Linked DNA regions of Homo sapiens. The protein of the gene in region 1 purifies or fractionates together with the protein of each later gene. This does not show direct contact. Each region holds a gene or a part of one and is shown in the gene's direction. Other genes may lie near its edges. The genes, in order: MYH7B, MAGEB3 and TRPC4AP.

Evidence for each region.
Region 2: the proteins of MYH7B (region 1) and MAGEB3 purify together in Homo sapiens (co-immunoprecipitation; one large-scale study listed by IntAct). This does not show direct contact.
Region 3: the proteins of MYH7B (region 1) and TRPC4AP purify together in Homo sapiens (affinity purification with mass spectrometry, with the first as the bait; one large-scale study listed by BioGRID). This does not show direct contact.

Annotation. Positions count from the first base shown.
Region 1 is NC_000020.11:34,983,337-34,986,993, forward strand, and holds part of MYH7B (myosin-7B), read left to right. Parts: exon of another isoform or gene 1-1,199; intron 1,200-1,355; coding exon 1,356-1,379; intron 1,380-1,517; coding exon 1,518-1,610; intron 1,611-1,729; coding exon 1,730-1,793; intron 1,794-2,763; coding exon 2,764-2,862; intron 2,863-3,549; coding exon 3,550-3,653; intron 3,654-3,657.
Region 2 is NC_000023.11:30,233,612-30,235,937, forward strand, and holds part of MAGEB3 (melanoma-associated antigen B3), read left to right. Parts: intron 1-2,252; 5' UTR 2,253-2,313; coding exon 2,314-2,326.
Region 3 is NC_000020.11:35,082,664-35,086,320, reverse strand, and holds part of TRPC4AP (short transient receptor potential channel 4-associated protein), read left to right. Parts: intron 1-3,657. UniProt on the Homo sapiens protein: Substrate-recognition component of a DCX (DDB1-CUL4-X-box) E3 ubiquitin-protein ligase complex required for cell cycle control.

The DNA of each region.
Region 1 (3,657 bases):
TTTGATTGTCTTGATTTTTGATTTTCATTTCAGTTTTGTTTTGTTTTGTTTTTGCTGTTGACTTTTTGGTCCTTTTTCCTCCTTCCCTTTCCTGCCCTGTCTTCCAAATCCCTAAAAAGGTCTCTGGGGACGTAACAGAAAGTTGGGTGGGTCAAGTGACAGGAAGAGATGTCAGGGAGAGGCCAGAGCTGGCAGGGACACAGCTGGAAGGGCAGAGGAGCACCTGGGCAGAAAGGAGCTGGGACAGTGGAGCCCAGGGGAGAGGGTCGGGCAAGGGAGGGGTGGGAGAGGCTGCCCGCAGGAGCCATGGCTGCAGGAACTTAAAAGATTGATCAGCTCCCCTTACCTTGGCCCCAAATTTGGCCAAACGGGCTAGAGAGAGCCCTGCACAAAAGCACTGGATGGGAGTGTATTGGGGGGTTCCACCTCCCCTGCCCAATGTCCCTGTGGGTATTTTAACTCTTGGGCTCCCTGGAGGTGAATGAATGACCACAAAGTCCGTGGTGGTATATCTGTTCCCTCCAGAATCCATTCCTTCCCTTCTCTCCCTTTCTTCCTTGGCTCCCAGCATCCGGAGTAGGGAAGAGAAGGAAAGGAAAAGGAAGGGAAAGTGAGGATGAGGCTAGGATGGGGAGAAGGAGGATCTGCTCAATTCACTTAGTCCCCCTGGGTGACACACAGGACCGCTGTGGCGTCCAGGCGGCAGGATGCTGGGCACCTGCCCTGCCGCTCCTGACTTGCTGTGTGGCCTTGAGCAGATCCACTCCCTGCCCAGAGCTAAGTCTCCTCATTTGCAAATTAGGGCTAATAATGGGCACCTGGCAGGGCCTTTGTGCGCACTGGTAGGTATACAGGCAGACAAACAATGAAGACACACCCAGTTGCATTACAAAGGAGAGGTGTGTAAGGTCATAGTGGGAGGTTAGGGCAGGAAGGTTCAGACCAGGAAGAGGTCTATTCCAGCTTTGGAGCAGCCAGGAGGCCTTCCTAGAGGAGGGGGCACTTGGGCTGGGCTCTGGAGGGCCCTAGATTTTAGTCGGGAGGCCCCTGGGGCTTGGAGCAGGGCCACTGCATGGAGACTAGAAAATGAAGGGAGGCCAGAGGCCGGGCTGGGGCAGAGGAGGCTGCAGGTGGAGACTCTGGCTGGGGCTGTGCCACTCCCACTTTCCAGCATTTTGCCTCCTAACAGCTGCAGGAGGGTCAGGCCGAGGGGCTGAGGGTGGGGGCCATGCATTCCGGTGACTAACTCCACCCCCCTGTCCTGCTGCCCGCTGCCTCCCGCTGATACCCTGCCCCACCCCGCCCTTCCCCACCGGAGGCCTGGCCCTCTAATGTTGTCTGTCTTCTTCCCCCAGCAATTTCTGGCAACAAAGACGGGGGTGAGTATGGGGCCAATGTCAATGGGGCAGCCCTGGGGGTACCCCCTTCCTCTGCACAACAGAGGGGCCACGGGTGGCTCTGGCCTCCCGGTGGGTAGGCACCAGAACTGACAGACCCCCTCACCCCCACCGCCCCAGGGCACCCTTGAGGATCAAATCATCGAGGCCAACCCTGCCATGGAGGCCTTTGGCAACGCCAAGACCCTGAGGAATGATAACTCCTCCCGCTTTGTGAGTGGCTGAGGTGGGAGGGGTGGCGGGGATGCCGTAGGCCACCAGCGGCAGGTCGGGCACAGGTGGGGACAGTGCTGGCTGTGCCCCTTGGCTGAGGGCTGCCCCTCTGCCCACAGGGCAAGTTCATCCGCATTCACTTTGGTCCCTCTGGGAAGCTGGCATCCGCGGATATTGACAGCTGTGAGTCAACCCCCTGCGGGCGGTGCAGGGGAAGGAGGCCTGAGCCCGGTCACCCCAACTCGGCCTCTGTCATCACGACTTCTGGGCTCCTGCCTGCTCTGGGCACTTCTCTCTACCCCCTGGCTGCTGCCCAGCTCAGGCCACCTCACCTATCACCAGAACATCACCCCAGCCTCTGCCTGGTCTCCAGCTTCCTCTCCTCTACGCGGCCATAGTTTTGCTGGTCATATCCTGTTCCTGCTTGAAAGCTTTCTCTAGATCCTGTCACCTGAGGATGGAGACCCAAATCCTCATTTGGCCAGTCAGGCTCCTGTGACTGCACCCCTAGCGTGTCCCCAGTCTTCTCTCTGGCCACCAAGAGGGCAGGCCTGGCCCACGGCCCTCCTGCCCCAGCTGCACAGCTACACGTAGAGTGCCCCATCCTTCCAGGCACCCCGCTGGGAAGTGCCCCAGTACCACCAGCTGCATAGACCCCAGGCGCCTAGGCCACACTCAAGGGGGCCAGGGACACAGAGGGGCCCCCACGTTGGCCACTCCCCACATTGGGCTGCATGGCTAGGTCTTGACGGATGAGCGCAGGCAGGCAGTGACGGGGACAGGGATAGGCTGTAATTCACACCCTGACCCCTACACAGACACACACAGACACACACGGAGGCTCGGCCACACACGCACACACGCTGACACACCAACAGATAAAAACCTGCACACGCAGACACCACACTCACCCCACACACACGCAAGGACACACACTGACCCATCTGGCCAGAGACACAGACACACAGGTACAGACACACGGCTCGTGTGATGACGCAGGCACAGGGGAGATACCCTCCCCACACAAGCTGGCAGGTGCAGATGCAGCCCCCCTGCACACTCCCTGCCCACCTCTCTCCCTCCGCATCGCCCCCTTGGGATGTCCACTCTGGGGAGGTGTGGGAGATGGCAGGCCAGCGTCCCTTCTCCCCAGATCTCCTGGAGAAGTCGCGGGTGATCTTCCAGTTGCCTGGTGAGCGCAGCTACCATGTCTACTACCAGATCCTCTCAGGGAGGAAGCCAGAGCTGCAGGGTGAGGGGCAGTACGATGAAGGGGGTGGGAGTCAGAACCTGGAGGGGCTGCCTGGCGCTTCCTGGCCCCCATCAGGCCAGGCCCTGGTGGTCTTTCCCTCCCTGTCCTGGGGTCTGTGGCCTCTCTTCCTTCTTGGGACTTTTGGTTACTTTCCTGCTAGGGAACAGTCCTCTTAGCTCCAGCAACCTGCCAACGTGTTATCGCTGCCTCCAGGAGCCTAAGCCCTAAACCCCACTTGCTGTCCTGAGACTAGAGAGGTCCCACCCAGCACCAAGGCGGACTGATGACTGTCTAGGCCCAGCTCTCCTCTCTGGCAAGCCCGTTGAGGGCAGAGTCTGGTCTTCCCTGTGCGCCAGCATCTAGCATGGGATCTGGGCCAGAGGGGGCCATGAGCAACAGTCAAAAGATGAGTGAGACGTGAGGACTGTGGCTCATTCCTCAGAGAACCAGAAAAAGAAGCCAGGGTCAAAGTGAAGGCCAGGTCAGGGCCCTTCACTCTCAGTGCCCTCAGCCTTGGCAGGAGTGAGGATGAGAAACTTAGGCCCCAGACTGGGAGATGAGGTCCTCTGGGAGGGCCCTAGACTCCTGCTGGGCTTGCCCCCGCAGGACCCCCTATGCTGCAATTGTTGTGGGGAGAATAGCCGGTAAGCACTGCCTGACCCTCCCTTCTCTGCCCTGTGTCCCCAGACATGCTGCTTCTGTCTATGAACCCCTATGACTACCACTTCTGCAGCCAGGGCGTCATCACCGTGGACAACATGAATGATGGGGAGGAGCTCATCGCCACCGACGTAT
Region 2 (2,326 bases), on another chromosome or scaffold:
GGAGGTTGGCGGACTTCGCTCAGTAGAGGTGTTACTCTGCTCCGCTTAGTAACAAGGTGAGAACCCTGAATAAGGACCTAGGGACCACTGACTCCAGAACAGTGGGGTCCCAGCGTGTCACCCCCTGCTGTCAGCCCTCGGAGACCCAGAGCGGGACGTGTCTCACCCTCACAACTCCCTGCCCCTTACAAAAGGGGACCCACACGTCTCACCCTTGTGGTTGACCCTGGGAGGTCCTGGTTGAGTTCTGTCTGGAAAGGCACCCAGAGGGAGGGTCTTTCACTAAGGGAGCAGCCCCAGTTATTCAGTTGGCGGGGACCTGGACCCTAACTGGAGCCAAGGTGAAGTCTCCGAGTGCTAAAGGATGGGATCTGTTCCCAGTAGGGGCGTCAACAGAAAGCAGCAGCAGCCCTACTGGTTAGCATCCTCCTGGTTAGCACCAGTGGTCCTTGTCTTTTTTATTTATTTTTATTTTTTTTCAGACAAGGTCTCACTGCTGCTAGCCAGTTTAGAAGGCTCCAGACAAGTGTAGTCATAAGCGGAGGCCCTGACTTCCCCATCCAGGGAGGGAAGTGTTCAGGGAGATGAGGGTTTTGTTTGGAGGTTGGCGAACTCAGGTCAGTAGAGGGAGAAATTTCAGGCTGTGATAAGATACCAAGGTGAAGACCCTGAATGAGAATCTAGGGACCAGCAACTCCAAAACAGTGAAGTCTCATAGAGTTCCACCCGTGTTGTCAGCCATCAGACCCCAGGAAGCTGTGAACAGATAAGGCTCTTCCTCACTTCCTTGGAAGTGCTTTGAAGGGGAGGATCTGGAGGCGAGGGGCACGGGATCTCTTCGGCAGAGGGTGAATTCCTTGGACTGTCTGGAGTCAAGGTCAGGACCCTGAATGTGCATGAAAGGGACCACCATCCCCCAACCTGTAACAAAGAGGGCCACACTAAATCCTGCCCCGGAAGTCTTCCCTGGGAATACCTTGAAAGCTGTCTGACAGATATCTACCTGGAAAGTCTCAGGGAGGGAAGGGCCTTGGTCTAAGAAAGTAGCCCCAGTTCAGCAGGTGGAAGAGAGACTTGGGTCCTAACTGGAGTCAAGGTGAGGGCCCTGAGTGCTAATGAAGCAATCTCTCTGCAATAGAGGTGTCAACACAAACAATGTCCTTGCACTCATTTTGCAACCTCCAGGCAAAGGTATTCATAGGTGAGGGGTCCCTGACTTCCCTGTCTAGGGTCTTGTTCTGAGGCTGGAGGACTTAGGTTAATGGAGGGAAGTGTCCCACATCCTACTAAGAGTCAAGGTCAGAGACCTGAGAGAAAACTAAAGGGAACACTCTCTCTAAAAAGTAGAGTCCCACAAATTGTGCCTCTTCTCTCAGCTCCAGGAAGCCTTGGAATAACGTCAGCCCCCCTTACTGCCTAGAGAGTGCCAGAAAGGTTGAACTAATTACATGCCCCAGTTCTGCAGAGGGAAGAGTGAGGAGACCCAGAGCCTTACAGGGGTCACAGTGAGGACCCTGAATGAAGACTAGTGATACAACTCCTCCCACATAAAGAAGAGACAACAAAGATTCCCCCACTCCCCACTTGCAGCGCTGATGAGGCTGGGCATGGAGGTCAGGTGTATGTGAACTCACCTTCTTTTAATGGCATTAGGTTGCTGAGAGCCTTTATCTAAAGTGAGGGGCATCAGAGCAGCAGAGGCAGCTGTCCTAGGTCCTATCTAGAGACAAGATGAGGACTATGAATGAGGTGTCAGGACTCCAATAAGCCCAGGAAAGAGTAGGACTCCACAATGCTGTTAGCACCCAGTTCCTCCTGTCAGGGGTGGTAAGGCTGAGACATTCCTTCACCTCCTCTTAGGTGGTCCCAAGGAGATGAGGACATTTGCTGGAGGTGTCAAATTTAGTGCAGCACAGGGGAGAAGACCCAGCCCTGACAGTTTTTATGATGGTCCTGAGTGTGAACTGAGAGAAACCTCCTACCCCAGAGTAAAAGGAGATCCACAAGGACTAGACATGCCACGGCTGCTCTCAGTCCCAGTATACACAGAACAGGGCTGGCAGGCTGTGGCCTAAGGCACACTTTAATTACTTTCACAGGGTTCTCAGAGGACAAACTGATCAGAACAGAAGCCCTCTGGGTTTCCAGAGCAGTGCTCTCACAGAAAACTGCAGAGGCGACCTTCTTTTAAATCCAAAGTGGTACCTCTCTGCTGAAGGCACTCATACCCTCTCTTTCTCTCTCTCCTCCAGGTGCCTGTATCACCTGCCCTTCTGCTGACACTCCTGCCTGCTGTTCCTGACTACAGCCATCATGCCTCGGGGTC
Region 3 (3,657 bases), 99 kb from region 1:
TGTATTGTCAGAATAACCCAACAAGGTATTTTATCTTTATTATCCTTTAAGATATCTATTTAGGCTGGGTGCGGTGGCTCACACCTGTAATTCTAGCACTTTGGGAGGCCGAGCTAGACGGATTCTTTAAGCTCAGGAGTTCAAGACCAACCTGGGCAAGATGGGTGAAACTCCATCTTTACTAAAAATACAAAAAATTATCCGGGCGTGGTGGTGCGTGCCTGTAATCCCAGCTACTTGGTGGCAGTGGTGGTGGTGTGGGGGGCTGGGAGGGGGAAGGGGGCAGGGCTGAGGTGGGAGGATCACTTGAGCCCAGGAGACGGAGGTTGCAGTGAGATTGCGCGAGACCCTTGCATTTAGTGTGGTATTTTGAGGCATTAGATGTCTTACATTTAGGATTAAAGAAACAAATAAGATGCACAGTTATCTTCATGGAATTTAGCCTTTAGTTATTTTTAAAAACAATAAAATCAGTGGAAACTGTAAATGTCTAGAAATGTCATATTTGCTAAACAGGTTGACAGTTTAGAGGGTATGATGTAAGAGATTATCACTGCTGTAAACTGTTAAACCACAAGTACTTCAAGAGAAAACCCATGTGATACCTGCCAGTAATTCAACTGGGAAGATGACTGAATGGTGGCACTTTTGTCACAGTGCTGAGCTGTTCACAAGGAAAACAAAATTCTAATGATTTTTTTTTTTTTTTTTAGACAGGGTCTTGCTCTGTTGCCCAGGCTGGAGTGTAGTGGTGAAAAAAAACTACTGAAACCTCCGCCTCCTGGGCTCAAGCAATCCTCCCACCTCAGCCTCCCGAGTATCTGGGACTATAGGCGCATGCCACCATACGCAGCTCATTTTTGTATTTTTTTGTAGAGATAAGGTTCTGCCATGTTGCCCAGGCTGGTCTTAAACTCCTGGGATCAAGCAATGGGCCTACCTTGGCCTCCCAAGTGCTAGGATATGAGTGTAAGCCGCTGTGCCCAGCCCCAAATTATTATTTTTAAATGAGAGTACATGCCTTGTAAGACAATGTATAAATAGTAAAGAAATTGCTTGTGAAGTCAAATATTTGGACTGTGATTAGATCTCTGCGTATCATGGAGCTTGTAACAAAAAAACAGCAGTGCCCTGCCTGCTTTGCACCTCTAAGTTCCATACTCCTAATGCTGTTCAGTGTCCATACTTAGCTATTTCTTTTGCAAGAGAAGGATCCAGGAAACAGGAGAGCCAGTATTTCTAAATAACATGGTTATAAAGCTGTTTCTTTTCACTTTTAGATACTATCTATTTTCTTCGCTCTTGAAAGACTAGGATTTAATTCACACATTCGATTCCTTCTTACTCGTCTCCACTAGTCTACCAATGTAGTTATATCACAGCTTTGGCTGTTGTTAAGTATTTACATTATGATGTTAGCATTATTATTTACAGCAGGGCCATATATTGTACAATTATATTTGTTTTATATAATTTTTTTGTAGTGTTAAAAACAGTCCTCTTCCATTTTTTAAATTGAAGGATAAATATACATATACCCTGTATATATATACATATACATATATATGCATATAAACATATATACATATACACATATATGCATATAAACATATATACATATACACATATATGCATATAAACATATATACATATACACATATATGCATATAAACATACATACATATACACATATATGCATATAAACATATATACATATACACATATATGCATATAAACATATATACATATACACATATATGCATATAAACATATATACATATACATATATACATATATACACATATATACGTATATACATATATAGATATATACATATATACACATATATACATATATACACACATATATACATATACCCTTTTGACTTTCATTAGCATAATAGTGCATCCTTTAATTTATTTTACTGTTTTTAAATTTGTATTAATGGGGTACAAGTGAAATTTTGCTACATTGGTGTATCGCATGGTGGTGAAGTCAGGTATAATGCATCCTTTTAAATTGTTTTGCCTTGTGTATACCTTTTTTTTTTTTGGGACGGAGTCTCGCACTGTTGCCCGGCTGGAGTGGAATGGCGCAATCTCGGCTCCCTGCAACCTATGCCCCCCGAGTAGCTGGGATTACAGGTGCCCGCCACCAAGTCTGGCTAATTTTTTTGTATTTTTAGTAGAGATGGGGTTTCACTATGTTGGCCAGGCTGGTCTCGAACTCCTGACCTCAGGTAATCCACCCACCTCGGCCTCCCAAAGTGCTGGGATTACAGGTGTGAGCCACCGCGCCCGGCCTGCTTTCTGTATACTTATAATTTGTTCCTAAATTCTAAAACTTTTTTTTTTTTTTAAAGAAATCATTTGAAGCCCTTCATTCCCCTACTGCAGTTTAGCAGTTTAGCAGTTTAGTTTAGCTGCTTACTAGGTCTGCTATACAGCTGAGTTCTTGGGACTTCTCTTCACCAAATCCAGAGCATTTTTCTTTCTTTTCTCATGTTTTAGACCTTGTTTCCTCAATTGTCTTCCTTTTTCCTGGGGCACACTCTCTGGTAGCCTCCCAAGAAAGAGTACATGGGAGGTAACTTTTTTTTTTTTTTTAAAGCTTGCAGATCAGAAAATGTCTTATTCTGACACATATATTTAGTTTGACTGGGTATAGAAGTATAAATTGGAAGTTATTTTCCTGTAATTTTTTTTTTTTTTGAGATGGAGTCTCGCTCTGTCTCCCAGATTGTAGTGCAGTGGCACCATCTCAGCTTTCTGCAACCTCCGCCTCCCAGGTTCAAGCGATTCTCCTGCCTCAGCCTCCCCTAGTAGCTGGGATTACAGGCGCCCACCATCACGCCCAGCTAATTTTTTTTTTTTTGGTATTTTTAGTAGAGATGGGGTTTCACCATGTTGGTCAGGCTAGACTCAAACTCTTGATCTCAGGTGATCTGCCCACCTTAGCCTCCCAAAGTGCTGGGATTACAAGTGTGAACCACTGTGCCCAGCCAAGAGTGTGTTACAGTTTTCTATGTAGCCGTCTTGCATAACTTTGTTAGATTTATTCCTTAGCGTTTTTAAAAGTGGTATTGTAAGTAGTGTTTTTAAAACTGCATTTAAAAATTGTAGCTGTAATATAAAAATAAGATAGATTTTTATATTATTCATGTATATTGCTGTAATAGTTGATAATTTACATTTAGGTTCTTTTGGATTGTATACTGTACAGTCATCTGTGAATATTATATCATCTGCAAATGAATCTTTTATCTTACCCTTACCAATCTTATGTCTTCTATATATCTTGCCTTACTCTGCTGCCTGAGACCTCCAGTATGATGAATAGAAGTAGCATGTTCCTGATCTAAGAGGGAAAAAACCTTAAACATTTTGCCATTAAGTATGATGTTTGCAGTGGGTTTTCTGTGGATACCTGTTACTAGAAATTCATTTTTTTATTTGAGTTTATCATGAATGGATGTTAAATTTTATCAAATGCTTTTTCTGTATCAATTGAGGTATTCATATCATTATTCTCCTTTATGTTATCAAATAATTATTCTCCTTTATGTTATCAATGTGGTGAATTGCATTGAATAAAATTTTCAAATATTAAACCAACTTTTAATTTCTGATACAAATTTTAAATTTAATTCAATTTTTG